7 linked regions of the Homo sapiens genome follow. The protein of the gene in region 3 purifies or fractionates together with the protein of the main gene of each other region. This does not show direct contact. Each region holds a gene or a part of one and is shown on either strand. Other genes may lie near its edges.

Region 1 (3,500 bases), on a different chromosome or scaffold from region 3:
TGTTGCCCAAGCTGGTCTTGAATCCCTGGGCTCAAACATCCTCCCACCTCAGCCTCCCCAAGTGCTAAGATTACAGGTGTGAGCCACCACACCTGGCCCGGAAAAGCTTTTTGAGCTGAGGTCTTGGGGGAGAGTGTTCTAGAAAGATGCAAAGGCCTAAGGCAATAGTCACCAACTTTTTGGCTCCAGGGACCGGTTTTGTGGAAGACAATTTTTCCACAGATGGAGGCAGGGAGGTGGTCTTGGGATAATTCAAGCACGTTAATCTTTATTATGTACTTTATATCTAATACGTTGTAACATAGAATGAAATAATTCTACAACTCATCATCATGGGGAACCAGTGGGAGCCCTGAGCTTGTTCCTGCAACTAGACGGTCCCAGCTGGGGGTGATGAGAGACAGTGACAGATCATCAGGCATTCGATTTTCATAAGGAGGGTGCAACCTAGATCCCTCACACGCCAGGTTCACAATAGGGTTCGCGCTCCTGTAAGAATCGAATGCCGCCGCTGATCTGACGGAAGCGGGGTTCGGGTGGTCCTGCAAGTGACGGGGAGCGGCTGTAAATACACTCACTGCAGCTCACCTGCTGTACGGTTCAGTTCCTGACAGGCCACGCCCCGGGGGTTAAGGACCCCCGGCCTAAGGACGGTCTATCATATAATTCACCTCGGCCGGGTACAGTGGCTCACGCCTGTAATCCCAGCACTTTGGGTGGCTGAGGCGGCCGGATCATGAAGTCAGGAGATCGAGACCATCCTGGCTAACACGGTGAAACCCCATCTCTACTAAAACCACAAAAAATTAGCCTGGTGTTGTGGCACACTCCTGTAATCCCAGCTACTCAGGAGGCTGAGGTGGGAGAATCACTTGAACCCGGGAGGCAGAGGTTGCAGTGAGCTGGGATTGCGCCACTGCACTACAGCCTGGGTGACAGAGCGAGACTCCATCTCAAAAAAAAAAAAAAAAGAATTCACCTCTCGAAGGGCACCTGGCAGAAGCTGGGCTCATAGGAGGTCTTCCGTGTGTGGGGGACTGCTGGTCCCTGGCTTCCCTGGGGCCCCATCCTCCTCCTCATAGAGTTGGGGACCCACTCCTCCTGTCCCCACAGAGGTGTGCTTGAAGGACCCCATGTCTGTGGCGGACAGCCTGTACAACCTCCAGCTCGTGCAGGATTTCTGTGCCTCTCGCCTTCCTCGTGGCTGCCCCCTGTCCCTTGAGGACTTGCTGTACGTCCCACCGCCACTCAAGGTAAGGCCATCCTGGGGCCTCCTGGGCCGAGGCGGGCATCTGGGGCCAGGGGTCCCGTCTGCTGACCCGGCCTCCCACCTCCAGGTCAACTTGGTGGTGATGCTGGCCGAGTTGTTCATGTGTTTTGAGGTGCTCAAGCCCGACTTTGTGCAAGTGAAGGACTTGCCCGATGGTCACGGTGAGGCCCTGGGGGCCTGGGGGCCGGGTCGGGGGCGGGTGGGAGAGCCAAACCCCCGCCTGACCCTCTTCTCTGTACTGCAGCTGCCTCCCCCCGGGGCACTGAGGCCTCCCCACCTCAGAACAACAGCGGCAGTAGGTACGCTCCCCACACTGGGCGAGTCTCTGGCATTGTGGGTGTGGGGCTCCATGTCTGCCTTGCTGAGCACTGGGACGCAGCTGGGTGATGCTGTTGTCTCCCCCCGGGGAGAGGCGGAGGAGGAGGTGGGGGTCCTGAGGCTGAAGTACGTCTCTCCGTACAGTTCTCCTGTCTTCACCTTCCGCCACCCGCTTCTGTCATCTGGTGGCCCCCAGTCCCCACTCCGAGGATCCACAGGTGAGGAGGGGGTAGGTGGCTTCTGTCACGGGGGACCCCCCCACTCACAGACTGCCCCAGTGGGCCTCATGTTGTCTCCTCGTGAGCCTTCCAATAGCCTCTCCATCAGATCCCCCTTGGGCATCCCAAAGTGACCCCCAGAATGGCCTCCCCAGTGGCCCCACAGTACCCCGTAGTGACAGTAAATGGCCCCGGGTATCTGTTTCTGGAAACCTCTGGTCTCACTAGACCACATAATGAGCCATCAGTGACTCACCCAATGACCTTGCAGAGGTTGTCCCCAGATGCTGGCTGACCCCACTCAGGGTTCCCAGGGTCCCCATAGTGACCACTCATCGCCTCCCCCAGGCTCCCTGAAGTCTTCCCCGTCCATGTCCCATATGGAGGCCCTGGGCAAGGCCTGGAACCGGCAGCTCAGGTGAGTAGACCTCACAGGCCAGGGTAGGGGGTGGAGCAGGCTAGGGCGGGTTGGGGCCGAGGCTGGTCCCAGGGGCTGACCCCTCCCTCCGGCCGCCCAGCCGTCCCCTCTCCCAGGCTGTGTCATTCAGCACCCCCTTTGGCCTGGACAGCGACGTGGATGTCGTCATGGGAGACCCTGTGCTCCTCCGCTCTGTGAGCTCGGACAGCCTGGGCCCCCCGCGTCCCGCGCCGGCCAGGACCCCCACCCAGCCACCCCCGGAGCCTGGTGACCTGCCCACCATCGAGGAAGCTCTGCAGATCATCCACAGTGCCGAGCCCCGGCTCCTCCCAGATGGGGCGGCCGACGGCAGCTTCTACCTCCACTCCCCTGAGGGGCCCTCCAAGCCATCCCTGGCCTCCCCCTACCTGCCCGAGGGGACCTCCAAACCACTGTCCGACAGGCCCACCAAAGCACCAGTGTACATGCCACACCCCGAGACCCCCTCGAAACCATCTCCCTGTCTGGTGGGGGAGGCATCGAAACCGCCAGCCCCATCCGAGGGGTCCCCGAAGGCGGTGGCTTCGTCCCCAGCAGCCACCAACTCCGAGGTGAAAATGACCAGCTTTGCAGAACGCAAGAAACAGCTGGTGAAGGCAGAGGCTGAGGCCGGAGCGGGGTCCCCCACGTCCACTCCGGCCCCGCCGGAGGCCCTGAGCTCGGAGATGAGTGAGCTCAGCGCCCGGCTGGAGGAGAAACGCAGAGCCATCGAGGCTCAGAAGCGACGGATTGAGGCCATATTCGCCAAGCACCGCCAGCGGCTGGGCAAAAGCGCCTTCCTGCAGGTGCAGCCGCGGGAAGCCTCTGGGGAGGCGGAAGCAGAGGCGGAGGAGGCCGATTCCGGTCCAGTCCCTGGTGGGGAGCGGCCCGCAGGCGAGGGCCAGGGTGAGCCAACCTCACGGCCCAAGGCAGTGACCTTCTCGCCAGACCTGGGCCCGGTGCCCCACGAGGGGCTGGGGGAATACAATCGAGCGGTCAGCAAGCTGAGTGCCGCCTTGAGCTCGCTGCAGCGGGACATGCAGAGGCTCACGGACCAGCAGCAGCGGCTCCTGGCCCCGCCCGAGGCCCCCGGATCCGCCCCACCACCTGCTGCGTGGGTCATCCCTGGCCCCACGACGGGGCCCAAAGCTGCATCCCCCAGCCCCGCCCGGCGAGTCCCGGCCACCCGGCGCAGCCCTGGGCCCGGGCCCAGCCAGTCACCCCGCAGCCCGAAACACACGCGGCCAGCGGAGCTGCG
Region 2 (3,500 bases), on a different chromosome or scaffold from region 3:
TGAAAGACAGCTGTGCTTAACAGTAAAGATACTTTGCATAGCCTTCTAAGTGGCTAGGAAAATCTTCAAAAGTGATATTCTCAACTGCTCCATCCCTAGTGGCTTTTGTATTTTGGCTAATTAATCAGAAACTAGTTTGGGAGTCACTATACAGAAAAATTGGAATATTGACACTTCAGCATTTGCTAGTGCTGAACTTGATGAAGGAATATATAAATATACATGTATCTCTTGGGTCCTAAAAGTAAGCCTCTAGAGAGGCATTTCATGTGTTTTTATGCAGAATTGACAGGGGAATTAAATGCAGTAGCTCAGAAATTGGGCTAAATCCAGAGTAACAAAACTAATTTTAAAAGCTCTGAAGTATATATTTAGATTTGGCTGGTTTTTTACCAATCTTATTCCATTTTATTCCAGGAAACAACTTATTTTTATACTTTAAACAGATCTTATCTTGGAGAGTGTACCGGAGATTTGTTCCTTAGGAGAATTTTGTGTATTCTTTTTTGGCATATGATTTAAATGCCTCCTTCAGGGTACCTGTGGTAGGGCACTTACCTAAAAGGAAAGACAAAGCCTCTTTTGCATTTTGGCACTAACAGGATCTCTGGATAGTAACTGGCCTGGTGCAGTGCTAGCTAGACTCAGGAAGTCATCTGCCCTGCCACCCTTTCCAAATTCAGAGGCTTAGGTAATTTGTTGGAAATGACAATCGGAAACTGGACTTTTGCTGGATTTTCCCAAAAAATAAATAGAACTTTTTCCTAGGCCTGGAATTGTAAATTTCTCGGAAAAAGAATGAGGGACACCTGGCACAGAAAGTTGTACCCTGAGAACACTATTTGAAGTTCCTCATGGTCACTAGTCTACTTGTTGCCAGCCTTTGTGGCCTTTCCCTTCCAGCATGCACATCCAGCCTGATCAGAATTCAAGTCTTGCTTTTGTCATTTGGCAAGCAGGCTCTGAGGGATGCTTTCTACCTCTCAGAAAAAGACAGGAAGTGTATTCCTCCACACTAGTGGTATGGGCATATCAGCTGAGTACTGGAGAATGTCTGATAGAAGCCATCATTTCAATGCTTATTCCATGAAAAGCAATAGGACCAGTAATTATGCTTTTGGAGATTAGCTTATGGTGAACTAGAATTCTTTTCATATTCTAAGATTTTAAAGTCAAGTTAGTAACTAAATAACCAGGAAAAGTTAAGTGGAAACCACTGGTTTTTATATGTTCAGGGACAAAGACACAAGCACCTGCCTCTTAGGCAGTTGTAAAGATGTATTTTGAGGGCCCTTTCTGCCTGTTTGCATGTGTGGGTATGTCTGTAGGATATTTTCCTGAACTGGGAACACTGAGTCCAAGTCAGTAATTTTGGTAGACATTGCCAAACTCTTCTCCATCAGGGTAGTGGCATTTTATCATCTACCAGTGATGGAGAGGAGTGCCTGTTTTCCCAGAGTATGTTGTAAACTTGTGGATTTCTCCTGATCTGATAGGTTAAAGGTGGTATCTGTGTCTGCTTATGATGACATAAAAAGATGTTCTGAGGTCAGAACATCTTTTCTTAATGTTATAGACCATTTGATTTTCTTATGAAGTGTCTCTTTATGTCCTTTACCCATTATTCTGTAGGGTCATTGAGCTTCTCAATTTCTTTACATACTAGGGAGAGTAGCCTTTCATCTGTGATTAAGAGTTGAAATATTTTCTCCAGTTTGTCATTGGACCGTGTTTTGTGGGGTTTTTTCCACCATGTGGAAGTTTGTTTTTACATAATCAAATTAATCAGTCTTGCCTTTTATGGCTTCTAGATTTTGAGTTATAGGTAGAAAGCCCTTCCCTACTCGAAGGTTATAAAGAAATTTACCTGTTATTTTCTGAGTATTTTTACAGTTACATATTTTATACATGATTTTTTCTTATTTGTTGAGAGCTCCTCTTGTTGTATGGTATGAAAGAATGATCTTTTTTTCCTAAATGGCTATCCAGTGGTCCCAGTGGCAATTATTTCCTTTTTTACACCCCTGATTTAAGATGCTACTTTTATCATATGCTAAATGCCTTGTATATATTTGGATTTATTCCGAACTTCCTATGATAAATAGTACTTTGGAAGAGAGAAATAATCTGATGCTCAAAAGACATCCTAGCCAGAAGGAGAGTAAAAAGGCAATATTGCTTGATTACGTATAACAAAGATGCCAATGAAGATGGAGGGCTGTTTGGGTGTGTTTGTTTGTTTAAGCTTTATTTAGGAGAGAGAACTGAGGAGAAGCAAAGACATCAGAGAATCTAAAGAATAGTCCCAGTCAGGCACAGTGGCTCACGCCTGTAATCCCAGCACTTTGCGGGGCCTAGGCAGGTGGATCACTAGAGGCCAGTTTGAGACCAGCCTGGCCAACATGGTGAAACCCTGTTTCTACTTTAAAGGCCAAAAATTAGCCGGGAATGATGGCACACGCCTGTAATCTCAGCTACTCGTGAGGCTGACACATGAAAATCACTTGAACCTAGGAGGTGGAGGTTGCAGTGAGCCAAGATCACGCCACTGCACTCCAGCCTGGGTGACAGAGTGAGACCCTGTCTCAAAAAAGAAAGAAAGAATAGGCCCAAGCCAGAAACGTATCGTTGACCGAGCCTTAAATATGTTATTTTCCATATACAAAACTAATGAGTGCTAATAAGTCACCACTGGTTTATAAATACCCCATCTCATTGTGAATACCACATGTACCTGTGAATTAGAGCCTTGGAGACACTTAACAGACACAAGAAAATGCCAACAGTTACGTATCTGTTCTGTTTAATTCCTTAATACCGAAAAGTAAAACCAGTAAAAGTTAAAAAGCTTCTTAACCCCTTTGTAGAATAAAAAATGTTTTCTAGAGAAGGGCGATTTTAGAAGCTTTGCTCTAGAAATTTCCATTTGGGATAATCTTGACTCCTTCCCTTCCTTTTTGGATATTTTTCCTTCGGGGAACAAAATCTGTTCAAAAGGGGACTAATCTAACCCAGTTGATGGTCATTTCTTTTCCTACTTAAAGCTTGGTAGTGTTAGCATGAGAGGCAGTTTGTGAAATAGGTGAGGTCCCAGGCTGGGCATTGGGGCTCCTCAGCCATCATCTTTCTTTTGCCACTAATTGTCGAGAGGGCTTGCTAATCAGTGTTTATTCTTCCTGCCTGCAACTGGAAACAGCCCTTGCCTATTCCTGTACAGTGTGATGATACTAAACCAGCTAGGGTAGAAGCACTTGCTTTCTCTCAGCAAGGCATGTGCTGCATAGCCTCTTTGAAAGACAGAAGAATAAATTACAAAGATAAATTAAGCAGGATCTTTGATTTGAACTCATAACCTGGTAGGGGAGCCAGATACATTAATGAATGGTAAAATATCATAGTAGAGGTTTGTAGAAAAGACATGGCAGCTCCAGCAAGAGAGCAGTACCTGCCTGGGTTTGTTGGAGATGGTATTAGGAGGCAGTATTTGAGCAGCAGTAGAA
Region 3 (3,500 bases):
TTGGCTATGCAGACACTTTTTAGTTTAAGTCCCATTTGTTTATTTTTATTGCCTATACTTTTGAGGTCTTAGGCATAAAATCTTTGCCGAGACCAATGTGCAGGAGAGTTTTCCCTTCATTTTCTTCTAGTGTTTTTTTTTTCTATGGAAAATAACCTTTTTTTTTTTTTTTTTTTTTTTTTGAGACAGACTCTTGCTCTGTTGCCCAGGCTGGAGTGCAGTGGCACAATCTTGGCTCACCGTAACCTCCACCTCCTGGATTAAAGTGATTTTCCTGCCTCAGCTCCCAAGTAGCTGGGACTACAGTTGTGTGCCACCATGCCCGGCTAATTTTTTTAGTAGAGACAGGATTTCACCATGTTGGCCAGGCTGGTCTTGAACTCCTGACCTCAAGTGATCCACCTGCCTTGGCCTCCCAAAGTGCTGGGATTACAGGCATGAGCTGCCACACCCAGCTGGAAAAAGAACCTTTAATAGAACAATTATTGAGAATATCGTACTAACAAAGTTTCTCAAGAGACTAATTAGAGCTAAAATGGTGAAAGTAGGATGATCTTTGTTTTTCGTTTTTTGTGGGTACAAGGGGTGTGTGTGTGTGTGTGTGTGTGTGTGTGTGTGTATGCATTTTTTTTTTTTTTTCCAGATGGAGTCTTGCTGTGTCACCTGGGCTGGAGTGCAATGGCGCGATCTTGGCTCATTGCAACCTCCGCCCCCTCGGGTTTAAGCGATTCTCCTGCCTCAGCCTCCTGAGTAGCTGGGTCTATAGGCATGCGCCACCACGCCCAGCTAATTTTGTATTTTTAGTAGAGACAGGGTTTCTCCATGTTGGTCAGGCTGGTCTCAAACTCTCGACCTCAGATGATCCGCCTGCCTCGGCCTCCCAAAGTGCTGGGATTACAGGTGTGAGCCACCTCGCCCAGCCAGGTGTATATATTTATGCAGTACATGAAATATTTTGCTACACTTATGCAATGCGTAATAACCACATCATGGAAAATGGAGTATTCCTTCCCTTAAGCATTTATCCTTTGTATTAGAAACAATCCAATTATACTCTTTTAGTTATTTTTAAATGTACAATTATTATTGACCGTAGTCCCCCGTTCTATCAAATACCAGGTTTTATTCATTCTATTTTTTTTTTTTAATCATTAACCATCCTCCCACCCCCCATCCCCACACTACCCTTCTCAGCCTCTGGTAACCACCCTTCTGTTCTCTGGCTCCATGAGTTCAATTGTTTTGATTTTTAGATCCCACAGATAAGTGAAAACATGCAATATTTGTCTTTCTGTGCCTGGCTTATTTTGCTTAACATAATGACCTCCATGTTCCATATATCTTATTGCAAATGACAGAATCTCATTCTTTTTTATGGCTGAATAGTACTCCATTGTATGTAAGTACCACATTTTCTTTATCCATTTTCTTTATCCATGTATCATCCATTCAAATGACAGAATCTCATTCTTTTTTTCTGGCTGAATAGTACTCCATTGTGTGTGTGTGTACATTTTCTTTATCCATTCATCTGTTGTTTTTTTTTTTTTTCCATTCATCTGTTGATGGACACTTAGGTGGCTTCCAAGTTTTAACTATTGTGAACCGAGCTGCAGCAAACATGGGAGTGCAGATGTCTCTTCAATATACTGATTTCCTTTTTTTAGGTATATACCCAGCAGTGGGATTGCTGGATCATATGGTAGCTCTATTTTTAGTTTTTTGAGGAACCTCCAGACTTTTCTCCATAGTGGTTATACTAATTTACATTCCCACCAACAGTGTACAAGGGTTCCCTTTTCTCCACATGCTTCCCAGCATTTGTTATTGCCTTTTTGCTATAAGCCATTTTAACTGGGGTGAGATGATACATTGTAGTTTTGATTTGCATTTCTCTGATGATCAGTGATGTTGAGGACCTTTTCATATGCCTGTTTGCCATTTGTATGTCTTCTTTTGAAAAATGTCTATTCAAATATTTTGCCCAGTTTTAAATCAGATTAAGGTTTTTCCTATAGAGTTGTTTGAGCTCTTTGTATATTCTGGTTATTAATCCCTTGTCAGATGAGTAGTTTACAAATATTTTCTCCCATTCTGTGGCTTGTTTCTTCACTTTGTTGATTGTTTCCTTTGCAGTGCAGAAACTTTTTAACTTGATGAGATCCCATTTGTCCATTTTTGCTTTAGTTGCCTGTGCTTGTGGGGTATTACTCAAGAAATTTTTGCCCAGACTGATGTCCTGGAGAGTTTCCCCAATATTTTCTTGTAGTAGTTTCATAGTTCAAGGTCTTAGATTTAAGGCTTTAATCCATTTTAATTATATTTAAAAAAATTTAAAAAAAAATAAAAAAAATAAAAAAAAATTTTTTTAAAAAATATTTTTGTATATGGTGAGAGAGAGGGGTCTAGTTTTATTCTTCTACATATGGATATCCAGTTTTCCCGGCACCATTTATTGAAGGGACTGTCTTTTCCCCAATGTATATTCTTGGTGCCTTTGTCAAAAATGAGTTCGCTGTAGTTGTGTGGATTTGTTTCTGGATTCTCTATTCTGTTGCACTGGTCTATGTGTCTTTTTTTTTTTTTTTTGCCAGTACCATGCTGTTTTGGTTACTATAGCTCTGTAGCATTGTAATTTGAAGTCAGGTAATGTGATTTCTCTAATTTTGTTATTTTTGCTCAGAATAACTTTGGCTATTCTGAATCTTTTATGATTCCATATACATTTTCAGATTGTTTTTTCTATTTCTGTGAAGAATGCCATTGGTTTTTTGATAGGGATTGCATTGAATCTATAGATTGCTTTGGGTAGTATGGACATTTTAACAATATTGATTCTTCCAATCCATGAACGTGGAATATGTTTCCATTTTTGGTGTCCTCTTCAATTTCTTTCATCAGTGTTTTATAGTTTTTTGTTTTTTTTGTTTGTTCTTTTGAGACAGAGTCTCATTCTATTGCCCAGGCTGGAGTGCAGTTGCATAATCTCGGCTCACTGCAATGTCTGCCTCCCAGGTTCAAGTAATTCTCATGCCTCAGCCTCCCAGGTACCTGGGATTACAGGTATGCGCCACCACCACCTGGCTAATTTTTGTATTTTTAGTAGAGATGAGGTTTCACCATATTGGCCAGGCTGGTCTCAAACTCCTGGCCTCAAGTGATCCACCTGTCTCGGCCTCCCAAAGTGCTGGGATTACAGGCCTGAGCCACTGCGCCCAGCCTGTAGTTTTCATTATAGAGATCTTTCACTTTGGTTAACTCCTGGGTATTTAATTTTATCTGTGGCTATTGTAAGTGAGATTACTTTATTTATTTCTTTTTCAGATTGTTCACTGTTGGCATATAGAAATGCTACTAATTGTTGTATGTTGATTTTGTATCCTGAAACTTTACTGAATTCATCAGTTCTAATAGTTTTTTGGTGGAGTCTAGGTTTTTCTAAATATAAGATCATCATATCATCTGCAAACAAGGATAGTTTGACTTCTTCCTTTACAATT
Region 4 (3,500 bases), on a different chromosome or scaffold from region 3:
GCAGAGGCTTCAGGGTGAGCCCTGTCCAGAACCCTGCTTGGGTCAGGGAGCCGTCCAGTGTGTCCCAAGTGTGTGGTGTGGACAGGGTGGTCCAATGGAAAGGCAGGCTGGAGGGTTTGAACTGGGGTATGGTTTCTGCTGGGGGAGAGCTGCGGCTGGAGCAGGAAGAGGTGGCCGGAGGTGGGGAGCCAGGGGCTGAGGATGGAAGGCACCCCGGGGAGCCTAGGCAGGCCAAGACAGGTCCTCTCAGAGGGAGGCTTGATGTCTACAGCAGTCTCTAGGAACTAGGGTCCCTGGGCTCTGCATTAGTTTCTCATCAGTGCATGGAGAGAGACAGAGCCTGCTTCTCCCAGGGCCCTTTGTTCCCGTGGTGGGTTAGGGCAGCAGGACAGGTGGTGGGCCAGCTGTGCTGGAAGCATCTGTCAGGGCCAGGCTGGGGCTGGGGGTAACAGTTGGACCAGGAGCTCCCAGCCCCACAGCCCACCTGTGTTCCTTCCTGGAGGTAGGAAGCCGGGAATCCAGGAAGGGGAGGGGCTGAGGCCATTTGGCCCTGGCCACAACCTCCTGAGACGTCCCCTCCATCCCTCCCGCCTTCATTTCCTTTGTCCCTTCACTTCTGTCCTTTCTCTTCTTCCTCCTCTCCTGGTTTCTCCCTCTGCTTCTCCCCTCCTCTTTCTCTTCTCCCTTGCCCTCCCTTTCTGCCTCCCCTCCTCACAGCCCCAGCCTCCTGCCTTGGCACCTGGGGAATAGGAGTTTGGAGAAGGGGTTGAGAGCCCTTTCAAACTTCAGGGACAAGGCCCTTCCTCCTAGGCCCCGGCTCTCCTCCCTCCCAGAGGGTCCTCAGCCTGGGCCTGCATGGGGTGATGGAGGAGGCATCTCTGCCTTCCCTTCTGTGCAATGGTTGCTCTGTCACCGCAGCCTATCAAAAGGAGCCAGGGCACACAAAGCTAGGGAGGAGGAGGAAGGAGGAAGGCCACCAGGTCAGCTTTCTGTTAGAGCTCAGACAGAAGGAAAGGCCAGCAGTCTCAGGAAGCCTCAGCCAGGACTGAGGCAGCCTAGGGGCTGGAAGGCCTGGAGCTCAGGCTTGGCCACCCCGGGGCCAGAGTCTGGGCGAGAGTGACTGCAGTGACCTCATCCCCATTTCAGAGAGGCGGAGATTGAGGCTGAGGGCGGGTCCCCAGGGTCCTTTGTGTTCAAGGAGAATGCAGTTGGGGTGGGCCAGTCGTGTGCCAATTGCAGGGTTGCCATGGTTACTGGGGGATGCCCAGAGCTGTTGGGAGCACCAGGTTCTCTCTTCTCCTCCTCCCTCCCCGGGGGAGGGGCAGCGGGGACCAAGGCACGTGCCAGGTAAGTTCCTGGCACTAGCCAATGGGGGATGAGGATCCTGGTAGCCAGGGAACGGTAACCAAGGAACCGTCGCCTTGGAATCTCCATCACACACCCGCTCCACTGGGTTGTAGGCTGCCAGGGCCAGGGCCGGGATGCTGCGCACTGAGCTCGACCAGCCAGCAATTTCTCCCCTCACTGCCTGCGCCCCCCTGACCCAGGCCTCCAGCAGTACCCTGCTGGGCTCCCGCCTGAACCGATGCCTGGCCCTGTTGTCATGGCTACAGCAGGAGCCCTCCCCGTTCCTGTCCTACCCACTCCATGTCCCTCTCCCTCCCCAGAGCCGTCCCCACCCAGAATTGGCGGCCTGGGCCCTGACAGTTTGACAGCCACCCCTCCCTCTCCCCAGGGCTCTGTACACATATGAAGATGGCTCCGATGACCTCAAGCTTGCAGCATCAGGAGGTAGGAATTCCAGCCATTCCCTCGCCGCCTTCTCCACCCCCTCCTCCTGGTTGTTTTCTTCCCCACCCACCTGGCTGTAGGCCACCTCCCTGCCTGCACCCTGCAGCCCCACACTTGTCTGGATCTGGCGGGTGTCCTTCCTCCAGTCATCCCTGTGTCCCCAGGGTGGGGAGGAATCTCAGAGCCTTGTTGAATGTTGGACTTCTGAGGCTGAGCCTCCAACAGGGAAAGTGACTTATCTGAAGCCACACAGCTGGGACACTTTGGGGGAAGGGCCCTATTCACCGCCTTCCCCAGAGCCAGAAGGCTTGATTGTGCCTCTGGGCACTGGCACCTGGTGAGACATGATGATGTGTGAAGAATGAGACCTGAGTGTGAAGAACAAACACTTCCTCAGTCCTACCCCCAAATCAGGCCCTGCAGGAGTCACAGGCAAAGCTACATCCCTGTGCGCCACCACCCCCACACATACCAACACAAAACTGGGACCCACAGACCCCAGAGGCCAGAAGACCCCTGGGGGTGCCTGTGGAGGCCTGGAGGAGTCTTTGCTTTGAGTTCCAGGCTCTTTTTGGGAAGGGTTTAGGAGGCAGAGAGACCTGACACTCTCCTGATTACCCTAGAAGGGGGCTTGCAGGAGCTTTCGGGACACTTTGAGAACCAGAAGGTGATGTACGGCTTCTGCAGTGTCAAGGACTCCCAAGCTGCTCTGCCAAAATACGTGCTCATCAACTGGGTATGCGGCCGGGGCTGGGGAAGGGGGCTGAGGGCCCAGAGCTGCTCATCAACTGGGTATGCGGCCGGGGCTGGGGAAGGGGGCTGAGGGCCCAGAGCTGCTCATCAACTGGGTATGCGGCCGGGGCTGGGGAAGGGAACTGAAGGCCCAGAGCAGTCGCCCTCCCCGTCGGCCCTCTGACACCCGTGGAGAGGGAAGCCCACCCTCTTCCCACCCCGGGGAAGATGCACCCTATCGTGTAGGGCCCCCCTTGTCCTTTCCTGACCCCCTCTTTGCTGGGTACTTTGCAGGTGGGCGAAGATGTGCCTGATGCCCGCAAGTGCGCTTGTGCCAGCCACGTGGCTAAGGTGGCGGAGTTCTTCCAGGTGCGTGTCAGGGGCCAGCGCTCTTGGGGGTGGGGACAGCCACCAGGGTCTGCGTGCTGGGGTGGGGATGGCGGGAGGATGGTGCCGCCTGAGCACTGCCGTCTTCTTGCGGAAGGGTGTCGACGTGATCGTGAACGCCAGCAGCGTGGAAGACATAGACGCGGGTGCCATCGGGCAGCGGCTCTCTAACGGGCTGGCGCGACTCTCCAGCCCTGTGCTGCACCGACTGCGGCTGCGAGAGGATGAGAACGCAGAGCCCGTGGTTAGTGTGTGTTTGGCACCCGTGGGCTCTGCCTGCGTGGCCTGGTGCCCGAGTCTGGCCTGCCCGGTCCCTCTTAGCTCTCACCCTTTAGGTGTCGGGGGTTCCTGGGGCATTCAGCCTGCTTATGCTGGGTCCTTCGACACTGCAGGGCACCACCTACCAGAAGACGGATGCAGCTGTGGAAATGAAGCGGATTAACCGAGAGCAGTTCTGGGAGCAGGCCAAGGTATGGAACCCTGAGCCCGGCCTGGCTGAGCCACCCCTCATGGACCCCATGGGGCAGGTCTGAGTCCCTCACTGCAGTGGCATGGCCCATGCCACGTGCCCCGCCCCCAGCGCTGGGTTA
Region 5 (3,500 bases), on a different chromosome or scaffold from region 3:
TTAATGGAGGGGACTACTTATATATTCTCTTGATATTGCCATTAGCAACTGCCTCCCTCTTTATTGGAAATAAAATATTGGCCACGTTGGGAGAGCTCTTTTTTTTTTTTATGGTCTTATAAATTCAACAGGAACTTACTGAGAATGTCTGGGCCTGTCAGATATGTGCCAAGGAGTCTTTTAGGCACTTCAGGGGATAATCCAGTGGGAAAAGAGTGTGGCACTGGAAATGGGTCAAGTGTGTTTGGAGAAAGGCCAGTATGTGTGTGACCTGATGGAAGTGGTAGAAAATAAGGTGAGGTGGGTAGGGAGGGCTCTTTGGGAAATAAAATGTAAATTCTTGCATTAGTCAGTGTTCCTGGGAGTATTTTTGAATTGATGATGGTGTGAATTCCTCCTTTTTTTTTTCTTTTTTGCAATGGAAATCCTCTTCTTTTTAAAAGAGTACAACATTCAAGGGCTGTATATGAGTTTTATGAGGCTTATTGCATCAAGGAATTATATCCACTTAAAAAGGAGGTAGTTTTAGGCCGGGTGTGGTGGCTCACGCCTGTAATCCCAGCACTTTGGGAGGCCGAGGTGGGTGGATCACGAGGTCAGGAGATCGAGACCATCCTGACTAACACTGTGAAACCCCGTCTCTACTAAAAAAAAAATACAAAAAATTAGCTGGGCATGGTGGCATGTGCCTGTAATCCCAGCTACTTGGGAGGCTGAGGCGGGAGAATCGCTTGAACCCAGGAGGCAGAGGTTGCAGTGAGCTGAGATTGTGCCATTGCACTCCAGCCTGGGCGACAGAGTGAGACTCTGTCTCAAAAAAAATATGTAAATAAAAATAAATAAAAAAAGTTTTTTTGACCAGGTATGGTGGCTCATGGCTGTAATCCCAGCACTTTGAGAAGCCAAGGTGGTCAAATTGCTGTATCTCCAGAGTTTGAGACCAGCCTAGGCAACATAGTGAGATCCCTATCTCTATAAAAAGTAAAATTAGCTGGGTGTGGTTGCACATGCCTATAATCCCAGCCACTTGAGAGGCTGAGGTGAGATGATCACTTGAGCCCAGGAGGTTGAGGAAACAGGGGAAACAAAGCAGCTTCTTTGCTGTTCTTTTATTATGAGGTTTAACTGACATTGCCTTTTATTATAAGTTCCAGTGAATAATCAAAGTGATGCTTTGGCTAGCCATGTTTAATTTTTCTTAGATTTCTAGCTGTCTAGTATCAATAGGCATTTTTCCAGAACACACAGTATATGTTATTTGTAGTATATTCAAAACTATCTAAGTTGAAAAAAATAAAGAATTGTACAGAGCTTTAAGAACGTGTTCTGCTGGGTGTGGTGGCTCACGCCTGTAACCCCAGCAGTTTGAGAGGCCAAGGCAGACAGATCACTTGAGGCCAGGAGTTCGAGACCAGCTTGGGCAACATGGCGAAACTCTGTCTCTACAAAAAAATTACAAAAATTAGCCAGGCATGGTGGTGCATGCCTGTAGTCCCAGCTGCTCAGGAGGCTAAGGTGGGAGGTATGACTTGAACCCAGGAAATGAAGATTGCAGTGAGCCTAGATTGAGCCACTGTACTCCTCCAGCCTGGGTGACAGAGCCAGACCCTGTCTCAAAAAAAAAAAGGAAAAAAAAGTCCTGTTTTTCAGTCCTCAGTCTCAGGGTCTGTTTCTTCTCATCTCCTTGGACAGCACATAATAGTAGACTAAAAGTCTTAAAAGAGAACACTCGCTTTAATACTTATGCATTAGAAACAAACTGCAAAATAACTAAATAATAAATTCTGGCTTCTAGTTGGTTACGTTTCTGTTTTGGCTTCCCTACTGTATTTGGAACTCGCTGGCTTTGGTTTTCCTGATTTGACTTTTTATTTAAATCCCCCTGGCTTTTATGCAGGTTTATTGACTGGTGTAGTGGTAGACTCTGGAGATGGTGTGACTCACATTTGCCCAGTATATGAAGGCTTTTCTCTCCCTCATCTTACCAGGAGACTGGATATTGCTGGGAGGGATATAACTAGATATCTTATCAAGGTAAGTGAAAGGAAAATATCATGGAAATTAAATTTTGTAATTTGTTTACCACCTTAACACAGAATTGAATCTATCGTTTTAGGATTCCAGCAAATCTGTACCACTAGAGAAATTATCCAATTACCTCCCTTATTTATATAAAAATTCATATAAGATTTATACACATGAAGAAAAAAGAAGATACATTAAAAACAAGGAAAAAAGTGTACACACATGATCTCTGTATACTAATGAGAGTACATTATATCATTACATAATTATATTTGTTATTCCTGAGGAGTGAGTAGACAGATATTTCAAGGATAGAAGAGACCCCTAATTTGAAACTTTCTTGGACAGCTCAGGCAGCCTTTTCTGCCATAAAACCTTTCTTTGAGCAGGTATGTTTTAAGCCATGATCTTGGTTGGGTTGTCTGCTCTTGTCCTTTCCTACAAAATACAGTGATAGCAAATTAATGATATTTGAGGAAAACAGCCCAAATACGCCAGACTTTAATATTTAGTAGTTTTCATGGAATAGATGCAGTTTTTAATATTTACTATTTTAGTTTATTTCTGAATATAACTAGTTATAATTTTCTTTAAAACATTACTGGAGAAAGTACATAAGGTGTCTACTTGCTAACATATATCATTTTTAATATTAAAATAAAATTTAGAAAATTGTTTATACCACAATTCTATAATCAGTCTATCCTCTCCAGGACAGTGGTTCTCACCAGGGGACAGTGCTGTCCTCTGGGGGATATTAGCAATTTCTGGACACATTTTTGGTTGTCTGAGCTGGGCAGGAATGCTACTGAACATTCTATAATGAATAGGGCTGGCTGCACAACAAACAATGTATAGTCTGTCAGTGGTGCTGCTATTAAGAAACCCTGTCTCTGCATTAAATTGGGTTGCACTGTCTTTACCTTGACATTGGGTTCCTTCAGTCTCATTTAAAGTAATCCTCCTCATGAGGGGAGATTAAATTAATGAGAATTATAATACTCTCATTTTAGGCCAAAATTCAAAGCGTAACTAACAGAATTTCTGGGGTTGTCTTTAGAACACAGACTCAAATATTAGAGGATTTTTTTTTTATTTGTAAAGTCTAGTAATTTTTTTTCTCTCAGTGGGTTTTTAAAAAAATAGTAGTATTTTCTAGCATTTAAGAAATGTAACAATGGAGATTATACCTTTGAGTATCCCAATAATTCCCTTATCATTCGTTAAACAAATGCTATTGTCCTTCTAATATGTGCCAGACACAGTACTAGAAGCTAAAGATAAAACTTTTAAAGACTTGGGGGCATTTCATAAATATGGCATTAATTGTGTGAGCAAACTGCAGGCTACAGGAGTCCAGTACTAAAATAATATTTATTCATTAATATACTTTTGATTGTTTATCAAAACTATCAAAACATTAGTACTCATGCAGTGCTTTTCAAAAACTGACTTTTCTAGTCATTTTACTGACT
Region 6 (3,500 bases), on a different chromosome or scaffold from region 3:
ATTTTTAATAGGGACAGGGTTTCACCGTGTTAGCCAGGATAGTCTCGATCTCCTAACCTCGTGATCCGCCTGCCTCGGCCTCCCAAAGAGCCACCGCGCCCGGCCTAACTCTTCAGTCACTATGACTTATGGGTAATTGAGGCTCAGAGGTATATTTGTCTTTTTTCCATATAAATGTCAAGAATGCTAATTATTAATTTTTAGAGAGAGATCTGTAATAAATATTTATTAGTAATATTTCTGTACTTTTTAATGTGAAATTATATTTATAGAAAATACCTCATCAAGGCCAGGCACTGTGGCTCATGCCTATAATCCCAGCACTTTGGAGGCTGAGACAGGCAGATCGCCTGAAGTCAGGAGTTCGAGACCAGCCTGGTCAACATGGTGAAACCCCGTCTCTACTAAAAATACAAAAATTAGCCGGGCATGGTGGCATCTGCCTGTAATCCCAGCTACTCGGGAGGCTGAGGCAGGAGAATCGCTTGAACCCGGGAGGCGGAGGTTGCAGTGAGCTGAGATCGTGCCATTGTACTCCACCCTGGGCTGCAAGAGTGAAACTCCATCTCAAAAAAAAAAAAGAAAGAAAAGAAAAGAAAATACCTCATCAATAAGTGTTAAATGAGTCATGGTGAATTTTGCTCTTGGTATATAAGAAACTGACCTTGAGTCTTGGTATATGAAAAACTGACCTTGACTTTGGGATTCTTCACAGAGGTACCAGATAAGTAAAGTCTCATCAAATAAGAAAAATAAACCTTACATTCAGATACATATTTAGGTATCTTCCTGGTTTAGATGCAAAGAAACAAGGATTCTTTCACAGGACCTGCATCATGTAGAAAAGGTTTTCAGTATGGTTCAACTGGCAGTGACTTTCAGAAGAATATATGATGAATCACAATATATAGTTCCCCCTCTTTACACTAAAGATTATTTTTATTTACCCTGTATGCTGTTTTAGTTGAATGCCATGTAGCAGACTGTTGGTTAATATCATAGAATGAGGTGTGTTAATGAATACAGTTATTTTCACACACACAAAAATCTAATAAAGAGGAAAGAAAGAAGTAATGAATCTTCAGATCTTTAGAAGTCTTAGAAATGTGTGAATGGGTGGAAAGAATGGCCCCGTTTAGTTTTGTAAAGTCTGTAATTATAAAACAGCTCTTCTACATGACCTCATAGACAATCCCGAGTCCCAGACGCTTTGCAGAGAAGCATCCTTGCCTTTCCTTGAGGCGGTGATCAGGACATAGATAGTGGGAAGGATGTGCCTGGGAGGAAGGTCCCAAGACCACGTCTCATCCTGGCATGCCAGTGCCACCCACCTGCCTGTGCCGCAGTTGTTTGTCATTGACTGGGCAAAGCAGATGACCCATGTCTCACTTGCAGGTATTGACTGGGCTCCCAAGAGCGACCGCATTGTCACTTGTGGGGCAGACCGCAATGCCTATGTCTGGAGTCAGAAAGATGGTGTTTGGAAGCCAACCCTGGTGATCCTGAGAATTAATCGCGCAGCTACTTTTGTGAAGTGGTCCCCCCTAGAGAACAAATTTGCTGTGGGAAGTGGAGCACGACTCATTTCTGTTTGTTACTTTGAGTCTGAAAATGACTGGTGAGTGACATCTGAATTTTTTCTATCCCTCTCTATAGAATTTACATTTGCACTGCTGTGTGAGGGCTCACCATAACTCCAGTTTTTCTCATCCGGAGTTGTGTGGTTTTTTCTCTGAAATTCTCGATTCTGTCTGAGCATTTTCCCTTCTCATGTGCATGTTAAGTTAAATCGCACGTTTTTTATATTAACATAGAGCTATTGTGTCCATGTTCTGATCGCCTAACTTGTTTCTTCTGCAAGATGCTATTACTGTTCTCACTCTATACTGCGCAAATTGCTGTTTTCTTACTCTCATTTACAAATAATAACATTGAAAGAGTCTCCGTTCCCTGAGGAATATTTTTTCTTTTTTTTTTTTTTTCACAGGATATCTATGTAGGATTCCTACAGATAACAATGTTCTTTTTTTTTTTTTTTTTTTTTTTTTTTTTGAGACAGAGTCTTACTCTGTTGCCCAGGCTGGATGGAGCGCAGTGACACGATCATGGCTCACTGCAACGTCCGCCCCCTGGTTCAAGCAATTCTCCTGCCTCAGCCTCCTGAGTAGCTGGGATTACAGTCACCTGCCATCGTGCCCGGCTAATTTTTGTAGTTTTAGTAGAGACAAGGTTTCACCATCTTGGCCAGGCTGGTCATGAACTCCTGACCTCATGATCCACCGCCTCGGCCTCCCAAAGTGCTGGGATTACAGGCGTGAGCCACCACGCCTGGTCAATGTTCCTTCTTTAAAGCTTATTTGCCAACCAAATCTGTGTCTTGGTGTAATATTTTACTTGTTTAAACTGTTGAAGTCAAAACTCACCAGAATCTTAGAAGTCTAATCAGCTATTGCACATTTTTTAAATTACTTCTTGCTGACCCAGTCAAAACACAGGTTTATTTTATGGCCAAAACTTATTTTAACTACTCCTTCCTGTTTGTTTTGATAAGGAAACAATTATTCTCCAGCCTGGCCAAGATGGTGAAACCCCATCTCTACTAAAAATACAAAAATTAGCCAGGCACAGTGGCAGGTACCTGTAATCCCACCTACTTGGGAGGAAGCAGGAGAATTACTTGAACTCGGAGGGCAGAGGTTGCAGTGAGCCAAGATCGTGCCACTGCACTCCAGCCTGGGCGGCAAAGTGAGATTCTATCTCAAAAAAAAAAAAAATTATTTTTCTGTGTGGCATGTGTTCAGCATGACTGGTAAATATCCTTCAACGTAAAGTTGTCATTTACTACTAAACTGGCAGTGTTTGTGTTTCTACTAAAAATAGCAGAGTATACATGACTCTTTGTAGCTGTTTTGTTATTTGTATTCTGCTGAAATTGAAAGAAGGGGATTATCATGTTACCTTTGTAATTTAGTAAAACTTCAGAAATTTTATTCTTCAAAAAGAGATTGGGAATTTGCGGTAAAATTGAGTTATGGGCCAGGTACAGTGGCTCATGCCTGTAACCCCAGCACTTTGGGAGGCCGAGGCAGGTGGATCACCTGAGGTCAGGAGTTCGAGACCAGCCTGACCAACACGGATAAACCCTGTCTCTACTAAAAATACAAAAAAATTAACGGGGTGTGGTGGTGCATGCCTGTAATCCCAGCTACCTGGGAGGCTGAGGCAGGAGAATCTCTTGAACCCAGTAGGCAGAGGTTGCGGTGAGCCGAGATCACGCCATTGCACTCCAGCCTGGGCATCAAGAGTGAAACTCCGTCTCAAAAAAAAAAAAAAAAATTGAGTTACGAATTTGAAACATACATTTTTCTTTCAAATGTGAAATCAAGGCTAACAAAATGTTACCTGCTAGAAACTATTTGGAAGTTTCATTGTAATGAGATAGGAAACTAACTTCATTAATATTCTCTCAAGGCTAAACTTTATGTCAGCTGGTACTCCTT
Region 7 (3,297 bases), on a different chromosome or scaffold from region 3:
TGATTTTTAAAAATTAAAAAGATTTTAAAAGATGTACAGAATAGGCCGGGTACAGTGGCTCATACCTATAATTCCAGCATTTTGGGAGGCTAAGGCATGAGGATCACCTGAGCTCAGAAGTTAGAGATCATCCTGAGAAACACAGCGAGATCCCGTCTCTATAGAAATCTTTTTTATGGTGTTGTGCACCTGTAGTCCTCGCTATTTGGGAGGCTGAGGCAGGAAGATTGCTTGAGCCCAGCATTTCAAGGCTGCAGTGAGCTATGATCACACCACTGCACTCCAGCCTAGGTGAGAGTGAGACCCCCTCCTCCCACTACCCAAAAAAATTACAGAGTAATGTAAAGATTTGAAGTGTACTGTTCAGTGGTGAGGCCTGAAGTAGGAGGAGGTGGATTAGAGGTTTAGGAGGTAGATTGGATGGGAGCTGGTGTAGTGTTGAGTGATGTGATAGGGGTGTCCAGCTAGTCTTAATGCTTTGGCTTGGTAGGCAGGAAGGAAAGGTTTTTCCAGATCTGATTGATACCTTTGGTGGTGTTTTGCTCTGGTCCCAAATCTCTCTTCTTCTAGTTTTTGGACACATTTTTAGCTGCTCATTTTCTCAGTTGTTAGCAAATTACCCAGAATTCTTTAAAGGCCTGAGTTCTGCCCTACCCCAGAGGAGAAATCTAAATAGAAAGCAGACCGATGCTTGGAGGAAACCCGTTTCATGCTTCTCAGAAAATGTAAATGCTGTTGGAAGTTACTACCTTTAAAATTATTACCATAGGCAAGAGCCTACCCAGGACTGGTTTCTGGCAACTTCAGACCCTAAACTGGGTGGAGCCACGAAATAGGCCCTCTGTCCCAAAGCAGGCCCACTGAGTAATACAACACCCCTATCCCTGGGAGGCCAAAGCCCTCCCTGCCTCTCTAGCCTGCCTGACTCCTTTTGCTTTGTGCCCTAGCCACAGCAAACATTCTGGTTACTTGCACCTCCTGGCTTTTGCTCCCCAACCCCCATCACCACCCCTTCCCCAAATTAAAGCCAAGTTCAGACATGGCATCTTCCAGGAAGCCTTTTTTGATTCCCTTCCTCATAGAGGGAATCGTGCCTCCTTGGGATAATGCTGCGCCTCACAAATGCTTCTGCAGTTGTGCCTTGCTGTCATTAATTGGTTCCTCATCTCCCTCCCCTCCAGGACTGAATTTGAGAACAAAGATGATGGTGTGTGGGTGTTGGTTTTTTAATCTCTGTGTTTTCAGCACAGGGCCTGGCTTACCACTGAATGTTGAATGAATGAATAAAACCATGCTTTATATTTTTATTTCATATTTAGCCACAGACATGCATGATGCCAGAGGACTGGCCTAAAGGTTCTGGCTAGGTTGTAAGGATGAGAATGTCATGCTAATTTGCCAGATTTATGAACAACCACATAACTGTGCTAAACTTGCATTTTCATGTTGACTCCCATCCAGAGGCTCACCTTGCATGTTGTTAGGAAGGTGCATGGATGGTTAAGATTGTAATTAAATTAACACCCTCTCTTTTGTTGTGTTCACGGCAGGTACTTTGTAAAAGCCCTGACACCAGCATTTTTGGTCTGTGTAGGATCCTCTCCTTTTTGCAAGAATTTTCTCCGGGGGAGAAAGGTGTACCAGATACGATGACTAAGCCAGGGCCCCTGGATCTCCTCCCTTACCCTCCTCTGCTGGGAACCTAGCACACCTGAATCAGCTGGACATACTGCTGGAGTCCAGTGCTTTCTTTCCGTCACCCTGGGGATAGTCCTTCCTGGCATCGTGGTGGGGGAGGAGCCTCTGGCTTCCCTAAACTGCAGCCTCTCTGGCTGGTCTTCACTTTCCTCAGTTGATATAAAACTCTGGGTCTTGGCCATGATGTCCTTGGACTCCATCGCTAAAGGGACCATCTGCTGCAGTTACCACAGCAACTGACCTGAGCGGCACCCTGGTCTGTGGAGATGGACTCAGGATCCAGTGACATGATTCTGAACTTTTGTGGAGTTTGACACCTTAGAGAAGCTACCCCTCAAACTGCACATCTACACACAAACAAACAATGCATAGGATTCCAAGGCTTTAAAGCTGAGAGACCCTGGCCTCAAGTTATTTCATGCGCACAGAGGGAAGCCATGTGGGGTTGCTGAAGATGCCTTGAGGTGAAATGGGGGCAGGAAAGCCACATCTTGCTCTGCATTTATAAAGACCGTACAAACTCAGATCCTTGGTACCCCTAAAAAGATTGCCAATTTTCTTCATCTTTGCCATATGGAGGACTGTGACAGACTTTGGACAGTGGCCTCTTGAGTTCCTCTGCAGTTTTGACATTTAGGATTTTGTGTCTTTTAAACTGGAAAATCTTCTAGCATGTTGGGTTGTTACAGAGTATATTTTTGTCTGCAGCTGTTTGTTGCCCCATTCCTAAGAGGAGTTTATCCATCCTGACTTGTAGCTGTGTGACTTCTTGCAGTGCCCCCACCCCATCCCCCCGGGAGAGTGTACTTCCCTGCTCCCAATGCAGAGGGATATGCACAGGCATGAGCTGTCCTGCGTCTGACAGAAGCCTGAAGAGTCATGTGTGGTTGGCCTGTGCTCTTCCCTCTGCTGTGAGAACACATTTCCCACAGAGGAGCCGTTCCATGGAGCCGAGCTACAGCAGCTGGCCTGCAGCCACTGAGTGTCACAGCAATGAGAGAGCAATGTTTGCTGTAGTAAGCAGTGAGATTTAGGGGTTGGTTGTTACTATAGCAGAGCTAATACATGAGTAAACTGAAGCCAGCTGCTGTCCTTAAAAGTGGACTAATTTGAGGCTGGGTGCGGTGGCTCACGCCTGTAATCCCGACACTTTGGGAGGCGGAGGTGGGTGGATCACCTGAGGTCAGGAGTTCGAGACCAGCCTGACCAACATAGCAAACCCCGTGTCTACTAAAAATACAAAAATTAGCCAGGCGTGGTGGTAGGCATCTGTAATCCCGGCTACTCGGGAGGCTGAGGCAGGAGAATCACTTGAACCCGGGGGGCGGAGGTTGCAGTGAGCCAAGATCGTGCCATTGCACTCCAGCCTGGGCAACAAGAGCAAAACTCTGTCTCAAACACAAACCAAAAAAAAAGTAGACTAATTTAGAGTTTTGTGTAGTGTGCCTCACTGTCTTTGAAAGGAAATTGGCTGTGGAATATTTACAAAGAACCATGCAGCTTCCAGGTGCCGGTCCCTGTCTGTGGCTTGTGGCTAGGAAGCTGAAGTTCAGCCTCCTTCCTACTCCTGGTTTTGGCCACTTAAGGACCTGAGGACCA

The links.
Region 1: the proteins of APPL1 (region 3) and CAMSAP3 purify together in Homo sapiens (affinity purification with mass spectrometry; one large-scale study listed by BioGRID and IntAct). This does not show direct contact.
Region 2: the proteins of APPL1 (region 3) and ARPC2 purify together in Homo sapiens (affinity purification with mass spectrometry; one large-scale study listed by BioGRID and IntAct). This does not show direct contact.
Region 4: the proteins of APPL1 (region 3) and DBN1 purify together in Homo sapiens (co-immunoprecipitation; one large-scale study listed by IntAct). This does not show direct contact.
Region 5: the proteins of APPL1 (region 3) and ACTR2 purify together in Homo sapiens (affinity purification with mass spectrometry; one large-scale study listed by BioGRID and IntAct). This does not show direct contact.
Region 6: the proteins of APPL1 (region 3) and ARPC1A purify together in Homo sapiens (affinity purification with mass spectrometry; one large-scale study listed by BioGRID and IntAct). This does not show direct contact.
Region 7: the proteins of APPL1 (region 3) and TTC4 fractionate together in Homo sapiens (co-fractionation; one large-scale study listed by BioGRID). This does not show direct contact.

The regions. Positions count from the first base shown.
Region 1 is NC_000019.10:7,609,363-7,612,862, forward strand, and holds part of CAMSAP3 (calmodulin-regulated spectrin-associated protein 3), read left to right. Parts: intron 1-1,113; coding exon 1,114-1,253; intron 1,254-1,337; coding exon 1,338-1,431; intron 1,432-1,514; coding exon 1,515-1,569; intron 1,570-1,732; coding exon 1,733-1,806; intron 1,807-2,154; coding exon 2,155-2,224; intron 2,225-2,324; coding exon 2,325-3,500. UniProt on the Homo sapiens protein: Key microtubule-organizing protein that specifically binds the minus-end of non-centrosomal microtubules and regulates their dynamics and organization.
Region 2 is NC_000002.12:218,241,189-218,244,688, forward strand, and holds part of ARPC2 (actin-related protein 2/3 complex subunit 2), read left to right. Parts: intron 1-3,500. UniProt on the Homo sapiens protein: Actin-binding component of the Arp2/3 complex, a multiprotein complex that mediates actin polymerization upon stimulation by nucleation-promoting factor (NPF).
Region 3 is NC_000003.12:57,262,229-57,265,728, forward strand, and holds part of APPL1 (DCC-interacting protein 13-alpha), read left to right. Parts: intron 1-3,500. UniProt on the Homo sapiens protein: Multifunctional adapter protein that binds to various membrane receptors, nuclear factors and signaling proteins to regulate many processes, such as cell proliferation, immune response, endosomal trafficking and cell metabolism.
Region 4 is NC_000005.10:177,467,135-177,470,634, reverse strand, and holds part of DBN1 (drebrin), read left to right. Parts: intron 1-1,735; coding exon 1,736-1,791; intron 1,792-2,414; coding exon 2,415-2,527; intron 2,528-2,817; coding exon 2,818-2,892; coding exon of another isoform or gene 2,893-3,007; coding exon 3,008-3,154; intron 3,155-3,302; coding exon 3,303-3,380; intron 3,381-3,500. UniProt on the Homo sapiens protein: Actin cytoskeleton-organizing protein that plays a role in the formation of cell projections. Required for actin polymerization at immunological synapses (IS) and for the recruitment of the chemokine receptor CXCR4 to IS.
Region 5 is NC_000002.12:65,251,831-65,255,330, forward strand, and holds part of ACTR2 (actin-related protein 2), read left to right. Parts: intron 1-1,897; coding exon 1,898-2,034; intron 2,035-3,500. UniProt on the Homo sapiens protein: ATP-binding component of the Arp2/3 complex, a multiprotein complex that mediates actin polymerization upon stimulation by nucleation-promoting factor (NPF).
Region 6 is NC_000007.14:99,342,898-99,346,397, forward strand, and holds part of ARPC1A (actin-related protein 2/3 complex subunit 1A), read left to right. Parts: intron 1-1,395; coding exon 1,396-1,618; intron 1,619-3,500. UniProt on the Homo sapiens protein: Probably functions as a component of the Arp2/3 complex which is involved in regulation of actin polymerization and together with an activating nucleation-promoting factor (NPF) mediates the formation of branched actin networks.
Region 7 is NC_000001.11:54,739,861-54,743,157, forward strand, and holds the end of TTC4 (tetratricopeptide repeat protein 4), read left to right. Parts: intron 1-1,550; coding exon 1,551-1,653; 3' UTR 1,654-2,797; downstream 2,798-3,297.